Regions from separate parts of the Homo sapiens genome. Here region 2 is linked to region 1. A link means that fine-mapping ties the variant in region 1 to the expression of a gene that starts in the linked region. Tissue or cell type: monocytes after LPS. Region 1 holds a variant in brackets; the other region holds the start of a gene. All regions are shown on one strand. Distances are between the middles of the regions.

What was found. PIP is the estimated chance that this variant, and not a neighbour inherited with it, causes the effect.
Region 2: it holds the start of SRGAP1, and the variant in region 1 is fine-mapped to the expression of SRGAP1 in monocytes after LPS (Quach 2016, PIP 0.95). The same link has a PIP of 0.9 or more in monocytes after Pam3CSK4 and monocytes after R848.

Annotation. Positions count from the first base shown.
Region 1 is chr12:63,909,917-63,921,072 of GRCh38, forward strand. The region is part of intron 1 of SRGAP1 (SLIT-ROBO Rho GTPase activating protein 1); the gene reads left to right. Among named protein-coding and RNA genes, the nearest start is that of SRGAP1, 71 kb to the left of the region's middle. RefSeq lists an enhancer at 8,942-9,730. The variant AGGGAAATGACG/A (reference allele first, on the strand shown) is at 6,727.
Region 2 is chr12:63,840,094-63,851,249 of GRCh38, forward strand. SRGAP1 (SLIT-ROBO Rho GTPase activating protein 1) reads left to right here and starts at 4,607. Exons shown (of 22, transcript NM_020762.4): 1 at 4,607-4,790. The coding sequence starts at 4,724. RefSeq lists silencers at 3,540-3,959, 4,020-4,079, 4,190-4,449 and enhancers at 3,612-4,113, 4,114-4,613.

The DNA.
Region 1 (11,156 bases):
GAGGCCCACCCACATTATGGAAGGTAATCTGCTTTACTTAAAGTCAACCCGTTATAGATGTTAACCACATGTACACAATATCTTCATAGCAACATCTAAATTAGTGTCTGATTAAATTACTGGATACAGTAGACTAGCTGAATTGACACATAAAACTAAGGATCAGAGTGTAAATTTCTGTAGGAAAGCATCTGTGTCTTTTGTTTCTCTTTACTCCAGGGGATCAAATGCAATGCTACATAATCAATTGATGTTTTACAAATGCTTGCTTGAATGATTGAATGACTTCAACAAGGTTAAGTCCAAAATCCAACTTGACAACTTGAGAGTTATAATTTTGGCAAGATTATTTCTGCTAGCAGGTGTTCTTTATTGTTAGATTTTATTAGCAGGAAATTGTTTCCCCCAATCTCTCTGGCAGCCCAATTATTTTCACTAAATATGCCTATACCTTCTGTTCTGGGTTTATTTCCACCTCAAGGTCACTGATCTATAATCTGCTATTGTCTTTAGCTGACTATCCTTCCAACCGTACTTAACTATTAAATAAATGTAGCATTCAAGAGTAACACAATGTAGTTACATTTCCTTCCCACCCTCTTCTGACCCATTTTGATCTTGCAAGCATTGGGGTCTTTCTACAGGAACAGTAATACTAGGTGTTTTGAAACACATTAAAGTCATGGTACTTTAGAGGGGAAAATGCATGGAACCTTACAGTAATGATTTAGTAATATCTATAAGACATGGTAGGGAGGCATAAAGAAGGCAAATATGGAGTAGAGAGGTTTGTTGCTCGTGGTTATAGGTACACCATAATATTTTCTCTTGTGCTTTTATATTCACTACTGGTGATGGTAAAACCAATATAATATGTTGTCTTTAAGGGACAGTGCCTTTTGGGAGATGGGAACAGTGGAGAGGTCATCCCAGTCTGATCTTAAAAGGGCCTACCCCAGAGTGGAAGAGATCCTCCATTTGTCCTGACAACTCTAGAGTAGAGATGTGGACATGTTTTGAGAATAGAGGAGAAAGGAATAGTCTCAGAAACAATACACTTGACAACAAATCCAAAGTATATATAAAAAAAGAAAACACTTTGGCCAGGTGCGGTGGCTCATGCCTGTAATCCCAGCACTTTGGGAGGCCGAGGCTGGTGGATCACGAGGTCAGGAGATCGAGATCATCCTGGCTAAAACGGTGAAACCCCATCTCTACTAAAAACACAAAAAATTAGCCAGGCGTGGTGGCAGGCACGTGTAGTCCCAGCTACTCAGGAGGCTGAGGCAGGAGAATGGCGTGAACCCAGGAGGCGGAGCTTGCAGTGAGCCGAGATGGCACCACTGCACTCCAGCCTGGGCGACAGAGTGAGACTCTGTCTCAAAAAAAAAAAAAAAAAAAGAAAAGAAAACACCTCAATAACTTTAAGGTGTCACCCAGCACAGTGTTTTTAAACTCTTGCCTCTGGATTTCTTCAAGTTTCTGCTAATGTGCTGGCAACATCTTAGTCAACCTTGCATCTATCTCTGCACCCATCCATGTAGTTGTGGTGGTGTTTTGTCTAGACGGCTGTGCCCTTAGCTGATCTCCCTGAAAAGACTTCGCTAGATTTGGCTACTGCAGCACTACAGCTGCTAAATTAAGATAAACTCTTAACATTCCTGACCCAGAATTACTGTATCCCCTTGCTAAGTCTTCTGTGTGAAGTGGCACCACGTTGCTAATTCTGTAGTTCCCAGTTGTTGTCAAATGCTCAGTGAACTCTTGACAACCATCTCAGACTTTAAAATATTTAAGCATCACCCCGATTACATTGCTAAGAGGTGCTGAATGTTTTAAATAAAGCTTACCTAAACAGTCTTGTCTCATTCCGGTTTCCCCTCACAGAGGAAGTGTCTTTCAATAACCCAAAACTACTGGCTTCTAATTTTAGGGATAACTAAGGTGGGACTAGGACAGAAAATAAGCTCTTCTCCATTGATTTTCCTTAGTCATTTTACTCCAGAGGCCTATAATTAGCTCTATTTTCTCCACCTGTGGTACATCTTTAGGTTAAAATGATGTTGGAGAAATAGTGGAGGATGTGCAGAGTTAGAAATTAGGGAGTGTACTTGGTCTCACTTTTGCATACTTAGATGAATGGCACTGGGGAAGAAGAGAAGGGGGACATTATACACCAATCTGTGTCCATTTCCTTTTATTTTTAATGATACTAATAACTCAGGGACACTTATTGATCATCTACTGTTTGCCAGGCACTGTTCTGAGTGTTTTACTTGTATTAACTCATTTAATCCTCACAGTACAAAAGCCCTGTGAGGTAGGTACTGACACTATCCCTATTTCAGAGTTGAGGAAACTGAAAGGGTAATTTATTCAATGTCACGGAGCATGTAAAAGTCAGCACTAGGCTGGGCACCGTGGCTCAGACCTGTAATCCCAGCACTTTGAGCAGCCAAGGCGAGAGAATCACTTGAGGCTAGGAGTTCCAGATAAGCCTGGGCAGCAAAGCGAGACCCCCATCTCTAAAAATATTAAAAATAAAAAATTACCCAGGCGTGGTGGCATGAGCCTGTAACCCCAGCTACTTGGGAGGCTGAGGTGGGAGGATGGCTTGAGCCCAGAAGTTTGAGGCTGCAGTGAGCTATGATTAAGCCACTGCACTCCAGCCTGGGTGATGGAACAAGACTCCATTTTAAAAGAAAGAAAAAAAAAATCAGCACTGGATAGAGTACACACTGTTTGTTGCTCTGCCATTCTGCTGGGACAGATAGCAAGATGAAAACAAAATTTTTTTAAAAAAGAGAAATATAAACGCTGTTGTTTCCCATCTGAAAACTCTAGTTTTACATGGTAGGGATTTTTGACCAACATTTTAGAGGTAGTTCAGCCCTGCAACACTAGGACGAGGGTTCATGGCCTGCAACACTAGCTGGAAAGAAAGAGGAAGTTTAGATAATATTAATAAGCTCCACCTAGAAGGATTAAATTCACTTGTGAGTATCACTGGGGTTGCTTACAACAACATTTTAAATACCCAGTAGAGGAGTCAAGTGCTTTCCTTAGTCCTCATTTTGAAATTTCATCAAATAGGGTGCTATTCCACACATAAGGCTTGTGTTTAGCTTATAAGGCCCTCCTCGATCTGCCTCTTCTTCTCCCTCATTATGCAATGACATAGAAATTCTTGCTTTTCCTACCTCCCATGTTTTATTCCTCCTACCTGGAATGCTGTTCTTTATGCCTCTCAGTGCAACCAATTTTCTGGTAAATCCTTCTTTTTTTTTTTTTTTTTTTTTTTTTTTTTTGAGACAGGGTCTCACTCTTGCCCACATTGGCCCAGGTGATCCTCCCACCTCAGCCTCCTGGGTAGCTGGGACTATAGGTGCTCATAACCATGCCTAGCTAATTTTTGTATTTTTTGTAGAAACAGGGTTTCACATATTGCCCAGGCTGGTCTTGAACTCTTGGCTCAAGCGATCCTCCCACCTTGGCCTCCCAAGGTGCTGGGATTATAGGCATGTGTCACTGTGTCCACATATATATATATATATATATATGGATATATATATATAAATACACATATATGTGTATATATATATACATATATGTGTGTATTATATATATACACACATATGTATATAAAGACACAGTTCAAGGGTCAAGTCTTTTACAAAGCTTTTTCTTAGATGAACTTCATCTCTCTCCCTGTTAATGGATCACTTCCTCCTATGTGACAGCAGCATATATACTTTTATATTAGCATCTCTAATATTTTATTGCAATATTTGTACATGGACCACAATGTGTGTTACCCGTCGTCCATAAAATAGGCACAAAAATTGAAGGTAAGCATTTAGACCTTGTATAGCAATTTAACAAAGTAATTTTATGACTCTGGAATCTAATAATAAAAATTGGAGATTGCATTTTTATATCTTAATTTTTATTTTTTTTTCTAGTTTTAAACAAATTTTTATGAAAGTATCCATCGTGAAGGATTTACATTTGAAAAAACTGGTCCTTTATTACAGATAGTTTGGGAAGCACTATTTATTATTTTTTCTTATCTGTCCTCTGTGCTAGGCTGTAAGTACCTAAGGGCAAAGTCCCTCTTGTATGAACAGTATTTTTGTATCAACAGTAATGAATTTGTTGTTCAGAACAATGACACTGTGACTCTCATAAAACCATTTTCATACCTATCACTTGTCCCTTTTTAAAGACTGAATTCTACTGTGTTTTATCCCTCAGTCATTGTACTTATCATTATCATACTGTAATTAACGGTTTATGGTTCTGTTTTTCCCACAAAACCTTAAGGATAGTTGAACCCGGCTCTTAATCACTTTTCCCTTCCAAATTCCAACCACAGTGCTTGGTATAAAATCAATGCTCAGTAAGTGTCATTGATTGAATGAACAAATGAATGGATTCTAGCTGCTTATCTGTTCCTTTTTGTTTTTAGTGACCTGATTATGGCTTGATTCATAAATTCACAGCTTATGGGTGTAAAATAGATCTAGAAGAATTAATTTCTGATGTCTCCCTATATCTACTACTACAATTTAATATTGTCAAGAATTATCTTTTTATGAAGATAATAAAATAATCTTTTTCCGTGTGAACAAAATGGGATTTGCATTTTTGTATGAATTACTTGTACCAATAAAAAGTCCTTGTATCACGTTGCCACTGATTTACGTTACTGTAATTCTGCTGCACAGGTTTGCCTTTCTTTGCAGGTTTGAATTTTGGTGTTTGTTTCTGAGCTGGTCCTCTCTTCCAAAAATAAGGCAGCTAACGGAAAACCCTACAAGTTTCTGTCTAAAAACCATTCCCTCTGATTCATTTACTATATTTTTTTCCGTACTTTTTTTTTTCTAAATATGTTCCCTATTCAGCTGACCTACGTAATTAGGACTTTGAAAAATCCCAGAAGAGCTCTATTTTGTAATTTACATTTGAATTATATATTTCAACAAAGCATCTAACCTTGCTGTGGAAGGATGTTAAGATTGTTTTTGAATATTGTATTTTAGCTTTCTCTGCTTATTGGACAATTGATACTTAAATTTTGTTTTAATCTACTCAGCATTTCAAGTTCTTTTTCTTCTTATATATTTTTGTAAGAAACCTCCATCATGAAATAATTTAGATATTTGAAATGTGAATAATGAAAGTAGAGTCAAATAAAAGTATATTTGCTTTAACTTTAGTAAAGAGGGGAAATATAAAAGTTGCATAAATTTAAAAATTAATCTGGAGATATTCCATGCTAAGGGCTTGTTAAATAAGCAACATGAAGAGCATCAATCAGGTTGGACATTTTTATTGTCAATGTTTAGTTACTTCCAGTGTAGATTAGTGTTTTTTGAAACAGAAGTAGGCAGGGCTAACTGCCATATGAATAATTTACTTTCAGGGAACCAGGAAACATAAAAGTATAAATAGTATTTCTAATGGACTGCCAAATGTTATAATCCAAATAAAAGCATTTCCAGAGGAACCAAAAGAATGGGGGCATTCTATTTGTATGGAATATAATTTGATAAAAAATTATGAGCAGATTGCATTCATAGAGAAATAAAATATGTGTGAGGGGAAAACAGCTAATAAAGAGGAGACAAAAGAGAATAAAAGCAGTGATCCACATTTTGAAGATTTTTAGCTGGAGACACTGAGTGATCATAGCAACCATCTCCAAGGAGACCTGTGGAAATGTGAAAAACGCTGAGGTCACACAGGCGTCCAGAGAAATTCCTTATTGATTAACAACTTCTAGATATGTCTTTCTCTCTTCACCTTCAATGCCTCCAACCTTTCAAACAGCATTTATTAGAAAGATAAAGGAAAACCAAATGTGATTTGCCCTGAAGAGAAAAAGTAACTCTCAGAACAGAAACTCAGCTCAAAACGTTTTGAGCAGCCTTTCACTAACCTTCAAAAGCTATTCAGAAACTTGGATATTAATGAAGTGAGAAGTCTCAAGGATGAAATAGAAGCCTTGGTCATAGGTGGTAGTATTGGTTATTGTTTTACTGAAAAAGAGGCAAGTTTAAATTCTAGGGCTTGGAAGCAAAATGCTCAGAAATGGTGTCTTTTCTTTTCTTTTCTTTTTTTTTTTTTTTTTTGAGATGGGGTCTCACTCTGTCACTCAGGCTGGAGTGCAGTGGTGTGATCATGGCTCATTGCAACCTCTGCCTCCCAGGCTAGAGCGATCCTCCCACCTCACCCTCTCGAGTAGCTGGGACCACAAGGCATGTGCCACCATGCCTGCCTGATTTTTCTAGAAATGAGGTTTCACCATGTTGCCCAGGCTGGTCTCAAATTCCTGAGCTCTAGGGATCTGCCCACCTTGACCTCCCAAAGTGCTGGGATTACAGGCATGAGCCACCATGCCCAGCCTGAAAGGTTGTTTTATAATTCCTTCATTACAAATCAGGCAGATCCCCACCAGTTTGAGACACCTTTAGGTGGGTGATGAGAAACTGTGTGCCATCTTTGAGGAGCATGATTTCCTTAGTTCATTCAGTTAGTAAACATTTATTACTTGTCTGCAGCAGCTCAGCCAGCTCTATACCAGACGCTGGGAAAACAAATGTCATCCGTGGTCTTGAGATGCTAAAAGTTTAAAGGGGAGATGGACAAAATAACTAAAACTGAAAGCAGTAATTACATACTGTAGGAAATGTGTGCAGAGTGTTCTAAGCATAGAGGGGCTGG[AGGGAAATGACG/A]GGGAACATTTGAATCAGGAAGAAATTCCAGAGGAAGTTGTGACTATGCTGAAAGCTGAGAAGGGGCATAAGGTGCCTAGGATGATATAAAAGTCATGAGATTTAAGAAAGGTCTGGGAATCGCATGCAGGCCAGTAGACTTAATGAGAAGTAGTTAGGGTGTGAAATGTGACAAAAATTAAGTACTCTTCTGCTCCACCCTCTATCCATTTATTTCTCCTTGATTAATTTTGGGGAAGTTGTGGTTTGGATCTGAGAGGAGAGTGTGCCATTTGATCAAAACCACGAGGCCAGATCATTTTCCAGTACCACCAAGGATCATTTGGCATGGGCTGCTGATTTCTGCTGTGGTCTCACCTTGCTCAGCAAGGTCAGATTGCATATAGATTTCATGTGTTCACTTTAAGGAATCTCACTTGTGAGATTTAGTCATATTGCAAGCTTTATATCTACCCCATGGGATATAACATATGGGATATGCTATTTAATGGCAGTTATGCAGATTAAATGAGCAAATATATGTACAACACTAATAATAAATACTGCCTGATACATAGTAAACACCGTATAAAGCGTTATTATTGTTATGATGAGTAATTATTATTCATCTGGGATTCTCCTGAGTCGTCGGAACCCCTGGGCTGTCCTTTGGACCTGGAGCCTGAGCAGAACTGGAAAAGACTCCCAGAAAGACCTAGGGCTCTCTAAGACAGTATGGTCCATTAGAGGTATGGATGCCTGGGTCTTGGCTAGAGTCCAGGGTGGAAAATATAGGTCAGTTCACTGAAAAGTTCATTTTTATTGTGAGTGTGTTGGGAGCAATGTGAGTCAACAGCACTGCGCAGTTGCTCCTTTTGAATTTGCTACCATAATTTTTGGAAGGGACTGCATGGGCTTCACAGCAGCGAAGGCCCTGGGTTTTACTACTATAAAATAAGTCATCATCTAGGATGTGAAAGAGCTTGCTTTCTGTTTTGTTTTAAAAGGATATATTATAGCTGATAGTGCAAATCTACTCTTAAGAATTTCTAATTACTATTTGAATATGGTCTCTATTTCAGAACCTGCTTAGGCCCAAATTTGAAAACAGTTTATAATGAACCTGCTTTCTGTAATTCTTGTACACACCAATTTCCCACCCTGCTTTCTGTAATTCTTGTACACACCAATTTCCCACGCTAGCTGTGAGAAGTTCATGGGATGATGTGTCTGTGTTGTTTATCCTACAGAAAACCGTGAATAAATGGCTGTTATTTTTGCTATTCTCGTCTTGCTGATTTCCTATGCTAGTGGCTAGCACAAATGCAAGATTATATTGTGCCATACTCACTGGAAGTTTGGTGGCTACAAGATTTCCCTAGCACATGGCCTTAGTCTGAGCAAACTGTAGCAACAACTATAGGATGCCCAATTGGTTCACATTTTAAAATTGGGTGTGGACAAAATCAGTCATAGTAAAACTGCGTAAAGAATGCAGATTGCTCAAAGCTATGTCCTTGAGCAATAAAAAGCCGCTTTTTATGAGGAAATTACACTGTCGTTGTGCAAGAATAATATTGTGCTGGACAAAGTGCTAAATTCTTTTTTTAATCATCACAACCCCTCCTCCCCCCATTACCCTGTTTTAGAGATGAGAAAACGGAAACCCAGTGAAGTTAAGCAACTCATTCAAGGTCACCCAGCTAAGAAGACTAATGAGAGCCTTGATTTGAACCTGGAAGTGTCTGACTTCAGGGTTCATGAACTAAGCCTTTTATGCTCTATTGCTTTCTCTCTTTTTTTAAGACAAGCCTCACTCTGTCACCCAGGTTGGAGTGCAGTAGTGCAGTCATGGTTCACTGCAGCCTCTGCCTCCCAGGCTCAAGTGACCCTCCCACATCAGTCTCCTGAGTAGCTGGAACTACAGTCATGTGCCACCATGCCCAGTTAATTTGTGTATTTTTTGTAGAGATGAAGTTTTACCATGTTGCCCCAGCTGGTCTCGAATCCCTGGGCTCAAGCAATCTGCCTACCTCGGTCTCCTAAAGTGCTGGGATTACAGGCGTGAGCCGTTGCACCAGCCAGTGCTCTATTGCTTTGTTTGCACTATCTAGGCCATTTGTTCATCCATTTATTCATTTATTCCATAAATATTTATTGTATATGCCGAGTACTCTTCTAGGCCTGGAAATACTGTGGTGAACAAGAATGTCAAAGACTCCACAGTTAGGGAGTTTGCATTCTAATGGGAGAGACTTAAAATAAACAAGGAAATGAGTGCATGAGTGTGAGTCAGTGTGTATGTATATATTCTTTGGGGAGTGACGTGTGCTATAAAGACAAATGAAGTTCAGAGAAGAGGTATGTTAGTTATTTCGTATTTTGGTTTTTTTGGGGAGGGGTGTTTTTTGTGTTTTTGTTTGTTTAGTTGGTTTTTAGAGACAGGATCTTGCTCTGTGGTGCAGGCTGGAGTGCAGTGGTGTAATCTCAGCTCACTGCAACCTCCGCCTCACGGATTGGAGTGATTCTCCCACCTCAGTCTCCTGGGACTGGAAGCTGGGACTACAGGCACACACCACTATGCCTGGCTACTTTCTGTATTTTTTGTAGAGACAGGGTTTCGCCATGTTGCCCAGGCTGATCTGGAACTCCTGGGCTCAAGTGATCCACCTGCCTTGGCCTCCCAAGGTGCTGTGATTACAGGTGTGAGCCACCATGCCTAGCCAATATTTTAATCGTTTTAACTTAACATTTAATATATATTTGTATATTAATGATCCACCTGCCTTGGCCTACCAAAGTGCTGGGATTACAGGTGTAAGCCACTGTGCCTGGCCAATATTTTAATTGTTTTAACTTAACATTACATATATATATATATATATATATACACATACACACACACACAACTATGTTTGAAAATTATAAAGGATAACAGTGTCATATGTATGACTTACCACCTAATCTACAAACAAAAGCCCTGCCAATTCTGTCGCACTTATCTGTGCTCTGCCCCATCCCATATACCTGCCTATCTTTTGAAGCAACTACTTCCTAATTTTTTTCTTTCTCTTGCCTTTTTTTAAAAAATGTTATTTATCCCTTAAAAATATGCTCATAAGTACTATACAGCTAATTTTGCTTGTTTGTTTTGATTTGTAAAAATAGTATAACTGTTTGACATTGTTGCATGTAGCTGTAGTTCATTCATTTTAAAAGCTGAATTATGTGTTGTTGGGTGAGTATGCAGAATCAATTGATTCATTGCCCTGTTGGTGGATATTTGGATTGTTTCCAGCTTTCTGCTATTTGAACAATGTTGCTGAACATTTTCATGTGTTCCTATTAACACACATATACAGGAGTTTCTCCATGGCCTATTGCTGGGAGTGGAATTGCATGGTTATTGGGTATGTCAGTGTTCAAGTTCACATGATACGACTGCATTGTTTTCCGAAGGAGCATCACCAGTTTACATTCCCACTCATAAGTGATTAAGAGCTCCAGCAGACCCACTTTTTATCAGCACGTGGTATTATAAAACATCTTAATTTTTGCCAGTCTGGTGGGTATAACATTGCATTGTGGTCTTCATTGACATTTCCTGATAACTATTGAGATATAGCCTCTGAAGAGGTGACTTGAGCAGAAACCTGAATGAAGTGAACGACCAAACCATGAATGACTGATGGGTGGAATGTTCCAAGGCAACAAAACACAGGCTGAAATTATCCTGAGATGTCCATGGAGTAGCAAGAGAGTCCTTGTGAATAAAGAGAAGTGAGCTGGAGATACAAGGTTGGGAAGGAGTGGAGAGGCTAGTTCTCCTAGAACCTGGGATGCCATGGTAAATACTGTACTTTAGACTTGATATGAGAGTATGAGAAGACATGACAAGGCGATTAGAAGGGAGGAATGTGATTTGATTAATGTTTTTAAAATATGTTGGCTTCTATGTGATTGGATTATAGGGGATGATGAGAATGAGACCCTAGAGATGAGTTGGATATGCAGAAGTTAAGGCAAGAGATAGTTCTGGCTTCTGTCAGTGTTGGTGAAGAAGGTGGTGAGAAGCTAGATTCAGGACATAGTTTGAAGGTAGGCTGGTGAGTGAGACCTGTAAATGGTTTGGATGGAGGTGTGAAAAAGGGAGGAATTAAGGATAATATCCTGGTTTGGGAGTGAATAACAGAGAATGTAGATCCATTGACGAAATGGGAAAGACCTTGAAAAGAAGAGTAGGGTTGGGGAGAAAATGAAAAGTTTTTTTAATATGGAGAATATATATTCATTGTATTTGTAGCTACCTACTTGACATGTCATCTGTTGATGTTTCAAAAGTACCTTCAATTAAACATGTACAAAACTGAACAAATGCTTTTTTGTCCCACCCTTGAACTTCTTCCTTATCTCAGTGAGTGGTGGCCCATCCATCTGGTT
Region 2 (11,156 bases), 70 kb before region 1:
AATTACACTAAACAGTTGGATCAGAAAAGAGATCCACCAATAGAAACCCATGACTCCGTCACACACATTTTACTTATTTGAACTCACTTCACAAGTTTAAAGGAATCATAAGTTCATAGGAAGTGGAATGGAAAATTGGAAAGAGTACCCACTTTGGAGACAGGCAGATGTGAACTGGAATTCTGACCCTGCCAGGCCAGACATTTACTGAATTTTCTGAGCCTCCAGATTCTCATCTGTAAAATGAGGACAATGGTGTCCGCCATGTAGGGTTCTTCTGAGAATGTGTGCAAAATTCTTACCTTAGTGGGTATATCCCATCTTCAACAACAATAAAATGGTGGCCTACTAATGGTGGCATTAATATTCAATACATTTTATTGACTGTGTATTGAACACCATAATAAAATTAAAGATGAAACATTATCTCTGATCTTTATTTATTCTTTGTAGAAATGAGGCTGGTCTTGTACTCCTGGGCTCAAGCAATCCTCCCACCTCAGCCTCCCAAAGTGTTTAGATTACAGGCATGAGCCACCACGCCCAGCCTATCTCTGATTTTTAGATAGCTTTCTATTAGGAAGAGTAAAACTAAGATAATAATTGTAAAGATAACTAATACTCACTGGGTGTATACCATGGCCTACAAGTACTTTTAAGGGTTTATCTCAGTAAGTGCTTATAACATCCCCAGGACTTAGGCATTAACCAATTTTACAGATAAGGAAAATTTGTAACCCATTTTACAAACTAAGGCCTAGAGAGAATAGTAATTTTTACCAGATCCCTTAGGAAACAGCAGATTTAGGATTCACCTCTGGGCACCCTGTCTCTGGGGCTTGTTTGCAACACACTGATTTAGGTCTAGACTCAGGCAACAATTCATTTCTAGGTGCTGCAATCTCTGCTGTCAACTTGTGCTTCCCAGGTGCAAATATGAAACAAATCCCAACAGCATCATGGATATGAATCCCATTTAGATGTGACTATGATTATCACCTAAGTAGGCTGCCTGCCTGGTCTCTCTTTCTCTATGGCTAACCCATCCTTCTACACTGCCAACAGTTATCTTTATAAAACACAAATCTGATCGTGATACTTCTCTACTTAAAAGGCTCCCTGCTGTCTGCAGAACTGTGTCCAAGATCTTAGCATGGCACAGGAGGACTCTCCCAGCTGGCCCTGACCTTCCTTCCAGCCTCTGCTTTCTCTTCACCGTACACTCTTACATAAGACAGCTCCACGTGAAATTAGGGCAGCCAGGGGTGCCATAGTATAACTGCCTGTGTGGTAAAATGAAAAAAAGACTGAAAAAAAAACTTAAAAAAAATTGGCATATTTTCTTTACATATATTCTGTTGCTATAAAGTAAAAAAAACTTGCTAAAATTAGATTTTAAAAAAGCAGTGCAATTAACAATGTCCACATACCCACATACTATCAGCTGACACATGCATATACATATATTACAATTTTTTACATTATTTTTCACCATCTAGCAGAGATCTGGTATCTTAGTGGAAGATATCTTGTCACTCTATTTGCAATTCCTCTAGAGTATAACACTCTTCCTTTTCCCTGGAATGCATCCCTTTTCCTCCCTAAAGTTGCCAGCTACTTACTATTCATCCTTTAAATCCAGCTCAAAACCACTCCTCTGCGAACTCTTACACCCAATCCTCTTATGCAGTCTGTTTTTCCATCCCCAGTGCTCCCAAGACTGGGAGTATTTCTATCTCTTACAGCATTATTGTACTGCTTGTAATTATTTATTTATACAGTAATAGACTGCATGATCCTTTCCGGCAGTCTTAATCTTTGAATCCCTAGTTCCTAGCGTGGTGTTTGGCACAGAGTTAAGAACTGGAGAGCCGATCACTGGATACATGAAAGAATGATCAAAGTCTAAAAGTCCCTACTTTCTTTAGATCTTGTGGGGAAAACACTTGAGGGGATACACCTTTGGACACATCATTTTGATAAATCAGGCCCATAATATTTGAGAATTGATTTGAAAGGAGTCAGTAAATATCTCAAGTGGTGTGAGTCAAAAAGGCTAACAGAACCAGGTGTGGTGGCTGATGCTTGTAATCCCAGTGCTTTGGGAGGCTGAGGTCGGAGGATTTTCTTTTTTTTTTTTTTTTTTTTTTTTGAGAAGGAGTCTCCCTCTGTCGCCCAGGCTGGAGTGCAGTGGTGCAATCTTGGCTCACTGCAACCTCCACCTCCTGGGTTCAAGCGATTCTCCTGCCTCCGCCTCCTGAGTAGCTGGGATTATAGGCACATGCCACCATGCCCGGCTAAGTTTTATATTTTTAGTAGAGATGGGGTTTCACCATGTTGGCCAGGCTGGTCTCGGACTCTTGACCTTGTGATCTGCCCACCTCGGCCTCCCAAAGTGCTGGGATTACTGGTGTAAACCACCGTGCCCAGCCAGAATCTTTTGAGGCCAGGAGTTTGAGACCAGCCTGGGCCATAGAGCAAGGCTTCATCTCTACAAAAAAGTAAAAATAATAAAAAAAAATTTAAAAGGCTGGCAAGGATGGATTTAAAGTACTTAACACAACACCTGAACCATGCAAAGATGGCAAGGTAAATTCTTCGTTATATTGTTCAAAAAGAGACTAGAGTTTGAGACCAGCCTGGACAACATAGGGAGACCCCCGTCTGTACTAAAATGAAAACAAACAAACAAATAAAATAAAAAGAGACTAGACACGATAGATCTTGTAAAAGGTATCTATTAAAAACGTGGCCGGGCGCCGTGGCTCACACCTGTAATCCTACCACTTTGGGAGGCCGAGGTGAGCGGATCACTTGAGGTCAGGAGTTCAAGACCAGCCTGACCAACATGGCAAAACCCTGTTTCTACTAAAGATACAAAAATTACCCAGGCACGGTGGCGGGCGCCTGTAGTCACACCTACTCTGGAGGCTGAGCCAGGAGAATCACTTGAACCCGGGAGGCGGAGGTTGCAGTGAGCGGAGCTCGTGCCCCTGCACTCCAGCCTGGGCGAGAGTGAGACCCCGTCTCAAAAAAAACCCCCAAAAAACAAAATCAAAAAACAAAAACAAAAACAACCGTAAAAGTACTAAGTGCAATGTAGTGTCCTGTGTTGGATCTTGGAACAGAAAAAATGACACTAGTCGAAAAAATTGGTAAAATTGGAATAAAATCTGGAGTTTAGTAAATAAATAAGCTAACAACGCCGTTAAGTGTGACGTGTTTCCATACCATCGCTTTCCTACCATCCTAGCTTCCCTATCTACTGTAGGAATAGAGGATATGGTGTTCAAGGTGGGTGTTTTTCTCCGCCTCGATTGAAGAGCTTCGCGCTCTTTGGATTAACAGCCAGGTCATTCACAATTCAGTGTTCAGTTTTTCTATTGGGGTCCAGCGTCTCGGAGTAACATCCCTTTGTGTCATGGATACATCCAACTCTGGACTTCCCCATTAGATTCTGGCAAAAGCCCCACCAGAGCCCCCGCCAGAGCCAGAAGGCGGTCCCTCAGGTCAGGAAGGGGTTTTCCTGCCGCCGGAGCCGCGACCTCGGCTAGCGGTGGAGCGGGGCTTCGGCGGAGGGAGGTGCGGGGCCTCGGCGGAGGGAGGTGCCGGGGGCGCCGCCCACGGCCTCCTGGGCTCGGCGCGCGGGGCCGGGCTGCGGTTGGCCACAAGAGGCATCCATCTTCCCGGACCAGCCAGGCGTTTCCTAGCGGAGCAGGGGCGGGAGCTTGGACGGAGAAGGGCACAGGCCGGAGCGCGGTCCGCTCCCGCGAGCCTGGCCCCGCCTGGCGGAGCCCCGAGGAGCCACCGCCCGCAGATCGCTAGCCGGGCGCCCGCGAGGCGCGAGCCGTGTGCGCACCCTCAACTTTGCTGCCGCCGGGGGCGCGGCTCCCGCGTGCGTGTGCGAGTGTGCCTGTCACTAGCGGCCTCCTGGGGGCAGCAGCGGAAAGGGGGACGCAGAGAAAGGCAGCCTCGGCGCACCGCGGCCAGGGAGGCAGAGGCCCCTCGCGGCGCCGGCTCTGGAGACCTAAACTCCGCCGGGGCTGTGCCCAGGGCGCGTCTGAGCGTCGCCGCCTTCACCCTCTCAGCAGCAGCGGGGACTCGCGTCAGGACTGCGATTCCTTTCGCCTGCCGAGCTGTAGCGGCAGTGTCTGCGGGCAGAGGAGCGGCGGCCGTGGCAGCAGCATCCCCAGCCCGGGCGGGACCCTTGAGCGCCGGAGCCGACAGCTGGAGGCAGGAAGGGAGGGTTGTGGCGCCCGAGCTGGGCGCGTTCCCAGCGCCTGCCCTCCGCCGCTGGCCCTGTCCCGGGCGCCCGGTGCGGGTCTCGAACAATGGTGCGGAGCGCCGGCGCGAGCCCCGCGCCCGCCCAGCGGCCGTAGAGGAAGTGGCCGGGCTCCCGGCGAGGTGGGCAGGGAGACGTCCCCCGCCACTCGCTGGCTGGAGTTTGCCTGCGCGTCCGGCCTCTCCCCCGGGGATCCCCTGGGATTACCGACGGAGCTCAATTTCGAGAGTATGGTGCCAGCGCCCGGGCTAATCTAGTCCTCTCTACTCGCTCTTTTTCCCCTCCTCCTCCTACTTCTCCTCTCCCTCCTCCCTTCCCTCGGGTCGGCGCTGCCTCTGGATTGCCTGCGTGTGGGAGTACAACTCTGCCTCTCCAAGGAGAACGGGTTGTGACCACTGAACAAAACTTGCCCATTGAAAGCAAACCCGGAACAGCTGGATAATGTCCACCCCGAGCCGATTCAAGAAGGACAAAGAGATCATAGCCGAGTATGAAAGTCAAGTCAAAGGTAAGGATGGGAGCGGCTGCCTTGCTCCTTTTGTGTGCCTTCTTGTCATTGTGCTCGTGGAGTTGCGTATCTAACTTGGTGTCTGCGTGGGAGGAAGGTGGTGAGGGGACAGCTCGAGCCCTGTCTGAGCCACCTGGGCTTCCTACAAGCCAGTTAGTTCCCAGTTGCAATCCCAGTCCCGTCAAACCCACGGGGAGCTGGAAACTGGGTGACTTCCCCCGCCAGCTGCCAGCCCGCATCTCTAATGGGGAGAGAACTGGCTTTAACTTAACCACCTTCAGCTGGGCAACTTATGTGGGAAGCAGGCAGCAGTGGAGGATCCTGTCCAGCTATTATTATCACCATCATTATTCTTTTTAAATGGTAGGATTGTCACTACGTAATTTTTTTACGGAATGATTTTTGTAAAGTCTGTGAACCCCAAGCGGTCTACAGCCTCATTGAGTGCAGGCTATTTCAGATATTTACACCACTCACCTATTTACACCGCTCACAATTTATTAGGGCGAGACCCCTTTTATTAAATAGCTCCCTAAAAGCCTGGCAGTTAAACGAAGCAGTGACTAGTGGAATCTGACTCTTCCTTTATAATGGGCCAGAATTCATTGCCATCTTTCACACTCACATGGGAATATTGCTTTATCATTTTCTGGAAGCCACTTGCATGTAAAATGAAGGTTTGAATATTTGAGTAGTAGTTTCAGTCCATTTACATTGTCAACTAATGAAGGAAACCTAATTAAGGCTGATTATTTTTACTTTCTATGCCTTGTGATTAAAAATATATATATTTTCTCTCCAATACAAGTATTTTGTTTTGTTACTGAAGTGTTTCGTAAACATATGTGTTACTTGAATTTTTTCCTCCTCTTTCCTGAGGTCTCAGGAGTAGCTTTCCTGATTGAGACAATGGATGGAATGTTGGGACCGCCACTGTTCTTTGACACATTCAATGCAAAGTTCATAAAGATTGCTATGTATACACCTGTGTTTATCTATGCACAGTCTTATGAAAGGGCTACGGAGAGAGGCATTACTGTACTTCCCTTGAGCAAGGGAGGAGCAGCCTGAGTGTTCTTTTGTGTGGTCAAGTTGTAAAAATGCCTGGAGTCCTGTGAGAGGACCTGGTGGAGAAATCCTGTATCATCCAGTGTGAATACAGACCAACTCATTGTGGACACTGCAGACACAATATGCAAGATAACTTAGGTTATCTTTAGGAGGACCCCTATAATGGAGTTATCTATAGGCTGACCCCTATAATGTGTTCAGGAGACACAGATTTTTGTCTGCTTGGAATTGTGATAATTTATACTTACAGGAACTTGTTTCATTGCTATGGAAGTTGTGTTAGCAGATAAGTAATTATTTTCTTAGAGCCAGGTAAACTTTCTAATGAGACTAACCTTTCTTTTTTCAGTGAGTCCAACATAGCCTAAAACCTTTCATTCCAGGGCAGTACTCTTGTTCACAACCACCATTTCTCTGTGCAGTTTTTCCACATGGCTCTTTGTGGCAGGTCTTCAAGGGGTGGCGGTCTGGTTTTTCTGCCGCCTAGAGCACTAATTGGCAAATGCACTTCCAAATGTTGATTTCTTTATGTTTGCTGTAAGGTCACTTGCCAGTGATCAAGTCCTTATTTGAAAATCAGCGAAATGGGATGTGTTGCAATGTGTCTATCAAATTCAAACGGAAGAAAAATCATGAACATGGTGAAAATCACATTTGGAGCTAAGTCTGTCCCACAGAGAATGACCTTCTCCCTATTTCCTTCAACACTTCTTCCTTCCACACACCCACGAGTCCCTAGGCTGCTTTAGGAGTCTTCACTGCACCTGCCCTGCCCTGAGTCCAGGCTTTACCTCCTCCTGCAGTACCTACACATCCAGTATCTAACCTAGATCACTACATCCATACACAAACATGGGAATAAGGGAATATCATGGAGTCAGATCATATACGCATTAAATGGCACAAATTCACCTGGTACTTCTAGGCAAATCAAGAAGAGAGTGGGAGACAAATAACAGATAAATAGTACATGAGGCCAGCTGTCCAATGCAGGGAGAGTAGGCCCCTTAGTAAGGACAGCATGGGAGACAAGACTGGTTTTTCTGTACCCTCGCAGAGTGCTAGTCTGTTATTTACAGGTATGTGTTTTGGGATCAGGTGCAGTGGTGCATGCCTGTAATCTCCGCATTTCAGGAGGCTGAGGCAGGCGGATCACTTGGGGTTAGGGGTTCAAGACCAGCCTGGCCAACATTTTGGTAGAGAAACCACATCTTTACCAAAAAATACAAAAATTAGCTAGGTGTGGTGGCACACACCTGTGGTCCCAGTGTGCCTGTGGTTCCACTTGAACCCAGGAGGCAGAGGTTACAGTGAGCCGAAATCACATCACTGCACTCCAGTCTGGGTGACAGAGTGAGACTCTGTCTAATAAATAAATAAATAAATAAAGGTATATGTATTTGGAACAAACTACTTTTTAAATTACAGTCAGCAACTTTATCTGATGATAAAAAAAAATTCTGTTCTATTGCTAAAGGAAAACCTGACTGTGTGGGACTCATTAAGACATAAGTCTAGGCCAGGCACGGTGGCTCACGCCTGTAATCCCAGCACTTTGGGAGACCGAGGTGGGCGGATCACTTGAGGCCGAGACCAGCCTGGCCAACATGGTGAAACCCTGTCCCTACTAAAAATACAAAAATTAGCCGGACATGGTGGTGCATGCCTGTAGTCCCAGCTACCCTGGAGGCTGAGTCAGGAGAATTGCTTGAACCCGGGAGGCAGAAGTTGCAGTGAGCTGAAATTGCGCCACTGCACTCCAGCCTGGCTGACAGAGTGAGACTCTGTCTCAAGAAAAACACAATGAATAAACATACATATTGGACTCTATAGGTGACTTAGGTGTGTGGGTGATTTCAAGAGTCATTTTGATTATATGTATTTTTTTTTCTACCTTCTAACTTAGAACCTAACACTCTAGAATATTTTCCCCTGTTACTCTCTCCCATTTTCCCTAATAACAACTTTATTTATCTCAGAATTTTTGAGATAATGTTTTGACCTAAAGGAATGACTTCAGATATGGAATTTTTTTATTCTTTAATTTTTATTTTATATATATATATATATAAAAGGAGTATCGGTCTGCTGCCCAGGCCAGAGTGCAGTGGCGTGGTCTCGGCTCAGTGCAACCTCCACCTCCTGGGTTCAAGTGATTCTCCTGCCTCAGCCTCTGGAGTAGTTGGAATTATATACACGCACCACCACGCCCAGTTAATTTTTGTATTTTTAGTAGAGATGGGGTTTCGACATGTTGGCCAGGCTGGTCTCGAACTCCTGACCTCAGGTGATCCACCTGCCTCTGCCTCCACCTCCCAAAGTGCTGGGATTACAGGCATGAGCCACTGCACCCGGCCCAGATATGGAATTTTGCCACTGTGGCTGCCTGCACAGGTTTTGGGAACAGACTTCATGGGGCTATTCTTAACTGTGAAAAGAACCATTCCTGGTGATAATTCGTAATTTTATGTATAAGATCATAGATGTATCTAGTTGTGTGTATCATTTTGGGCAAGTCACTTAGCCTTTCTCTGGGTTTCGGTTTTCTTATCTATAAGATAAGGAGTTGGAATTCTCTTCATCTTAAGTGTCTTTTTTTTTTCTTTTTGAGACAGAGTCTCACTCTGTCACCCAAGCTGGAGTGCAGTGACACGATCTCTGCTCTCTGAAGCCTCTGCCTTCCGGTTTCAAGTGATTCTCATGCCTCAGCCTCCTGAGTAGCTGGAAATACAAGCGTGCACCACCATGCCTGACTAATTTTTGTAATCCTAAGTGTCTTTGAATCTAATTGAAGATGTCATATCAGTTCATATTAATTGCCTCATAAAATTTTCAAGCTTTTAAAGTTTTCAGTTGGCTGCTCTGTTTTGTGGAGAATCATTTTTGCTTTCACTTTTTTTTCATAAGTTCATGGACAGTGTATAAATTGAGTTTTTGGAGAATTAAAATAGAATACAATAAAGAATACAGAAAAAACAGTAATCAAAACCACATGCAGAGAAATGTAGCACAGAATTGTAAGACAGAAGAATCAGGAATGATACAAGTGGTTAAACAGTGGATAGGTTTAAATGGGGGACAAAAGGGGACCCCAGGCAACAGTTTTAAAGAATGAATTGAACATTTCATGCCTCTTGGTCAAATTCTCAAAGACTTAGAATTAAGAGAAATAAATCTCTTGTTTGAATAGGCCATTAGAAAGCAAGCATGTCTGGAAAAGTGTATGAAACCCAAACCAGTTGACTATGCTATTTGTTAGCATCTCTGGCAAATAGCGTAGCAGTGGAAGGGATTGAATAATTGGCTAGCAGAAGGTTTTGAATTATCTGTGGACTTTAGTGATCTATGTAATTCTTGTATTCTGCAGCAAAAATATTGTGGAGCTACACATATGGGAACAATAAAGACTCATAAAGACATGTTTTATGAAGTGGAACTTATAGATGAGAGGCTGTGTTTGTTTTTAATAATGCATGTTGCTAGTTGCTAAGAATTGACAGTTATTATTTGTAGTATTTTCCTAGAGATAGCACCATATTTATCTACATGGAATATGTACAGGGAGTGCCAAGAAAATCTGTTGTTCTTTGACCACTCTGCAGCCTGACATACAAATAATACATTTTAGTAGCAGATGGAACATGAGGAAATGCCAATTTGATTTGGTATGGCCCTGCATCATGCCATAGCAATATGGAACCTGTGTCTGCATCTTACATTCTTTCTTCAACATAGAATAGGAAGTGACAGCAATTTAAGTTATGAATTAAAACTTTATAGCTGGGAGGGACTTTTAACATTTTTTCTCCAACCCACTCATTACATGATGCAGGGAGGCTTAATGACAGAGTTGCACAATTAAGACGTACCTGGGACCAGAACCCAGGTTATCTTCTTTTCAGTAGCGATAATTCACTTGTAGATTCCTCACATAGTAGATATCTAAATAGGAGATAGAACAGTTACCTATTGAGACTTTACATTCATTGAAGGAGTCATTGTTGGAACTAAGAGAGCAAGGAAACCGTCGTCTGTGAACAGGAGTTAATTACATTGATTAACTCTAACCAAGTTGTTTTTTTCACCAGGACCATTTTAAGAGACCACAATACCCAGGCAGCAGCTTCACAGGGTGGCCTTTAAGGTCTAGAAAAACAACATGGTTAATATGTACAAATATGATTTGCCTGATGTTTTGGTGAAGCTGATTGCGCTACTGCAACAAGGCCTTTACAGTGCCCTGAAAACCCGGTTAGTTTCATGAACTTCAGAATATATTAAGGGATAGTTTTGGAGAAAATTTTGAGCAAAGCATGACCTTCTGAAACACATGAGGGCTGGATTATAATACAGGGTAGTAAATCTCAGCTCTGACAATCTATATTGGTTTGTTTACTCCTGTGCTATGTTGACCAGTTTAGGAGCCAGACAGCTTCAAGTCTGTTCTAGGTTTTAGAGTCTTTGTAAATTGGCCAATTTTTTTTTTTTTTTCTTCAAGACAGGATCTTGCTTTGTCACCCAGGCTGCAGTGCAGTGGGTGAACAAGGCTCACTGCAGCCTTGACCTCCTGGGCTCAAGCGATTCTTCTGCCTCAGCACCCCAAGTAGCTGGGAATATAGGTACACACCACCATACCTGGCTATTTTTTTTTTTTTTTTTTGTAAAGATAGGGTTTCGCCATGTTGCCCAGACTGGTCTCAAACTCCTGAGCTCCTGCCTCAGCCTCCCAAAGTGCTGGGATAATTGGCATGAGCCACCATGCCCGGCCAAGGAGAGACAGCTTAAAAAATTTTATTCATGCTACCTATTTTCACTTCAATTCAAACAACTAACAAAATAAAGAAAAGGGAATAAATTGTTTGTCTAATTAGTCTATTTATGCTTTAGCAGTTTGAAGGCAGAATTTTGGATTAGAGGATGGGCATGGTAGCTCATACCTGTAATCAATCCTAGCACTTTGGGAGGCCGAGGCGGGTGGATTGCTTGAGCCCAGGAGTTTGAGACCAGCCTTGGCAACATGGTGAAATCTCGTCTCTACTAAAAACACAAAAATTAGCCGGGTGTGGTAGCATGTATCTATAATCCCAGCTACTCTGGAGGCTGAGGCACAAGAATCACTTGAACCCAGAAGGCAGAGGTTGCAGTGAGCTGAGATTGTGCCACTGCACTCCAGCCTGGGCCACAGAGCGAGACTCCATCTCAGAAAAAAAGAAGTTTGGTTTAGAGACAGTTATGTAAAGGTAATTTTGTCAGCTCAGAACTACTTTCTAATTTATTGACAGCATTATCTACTCT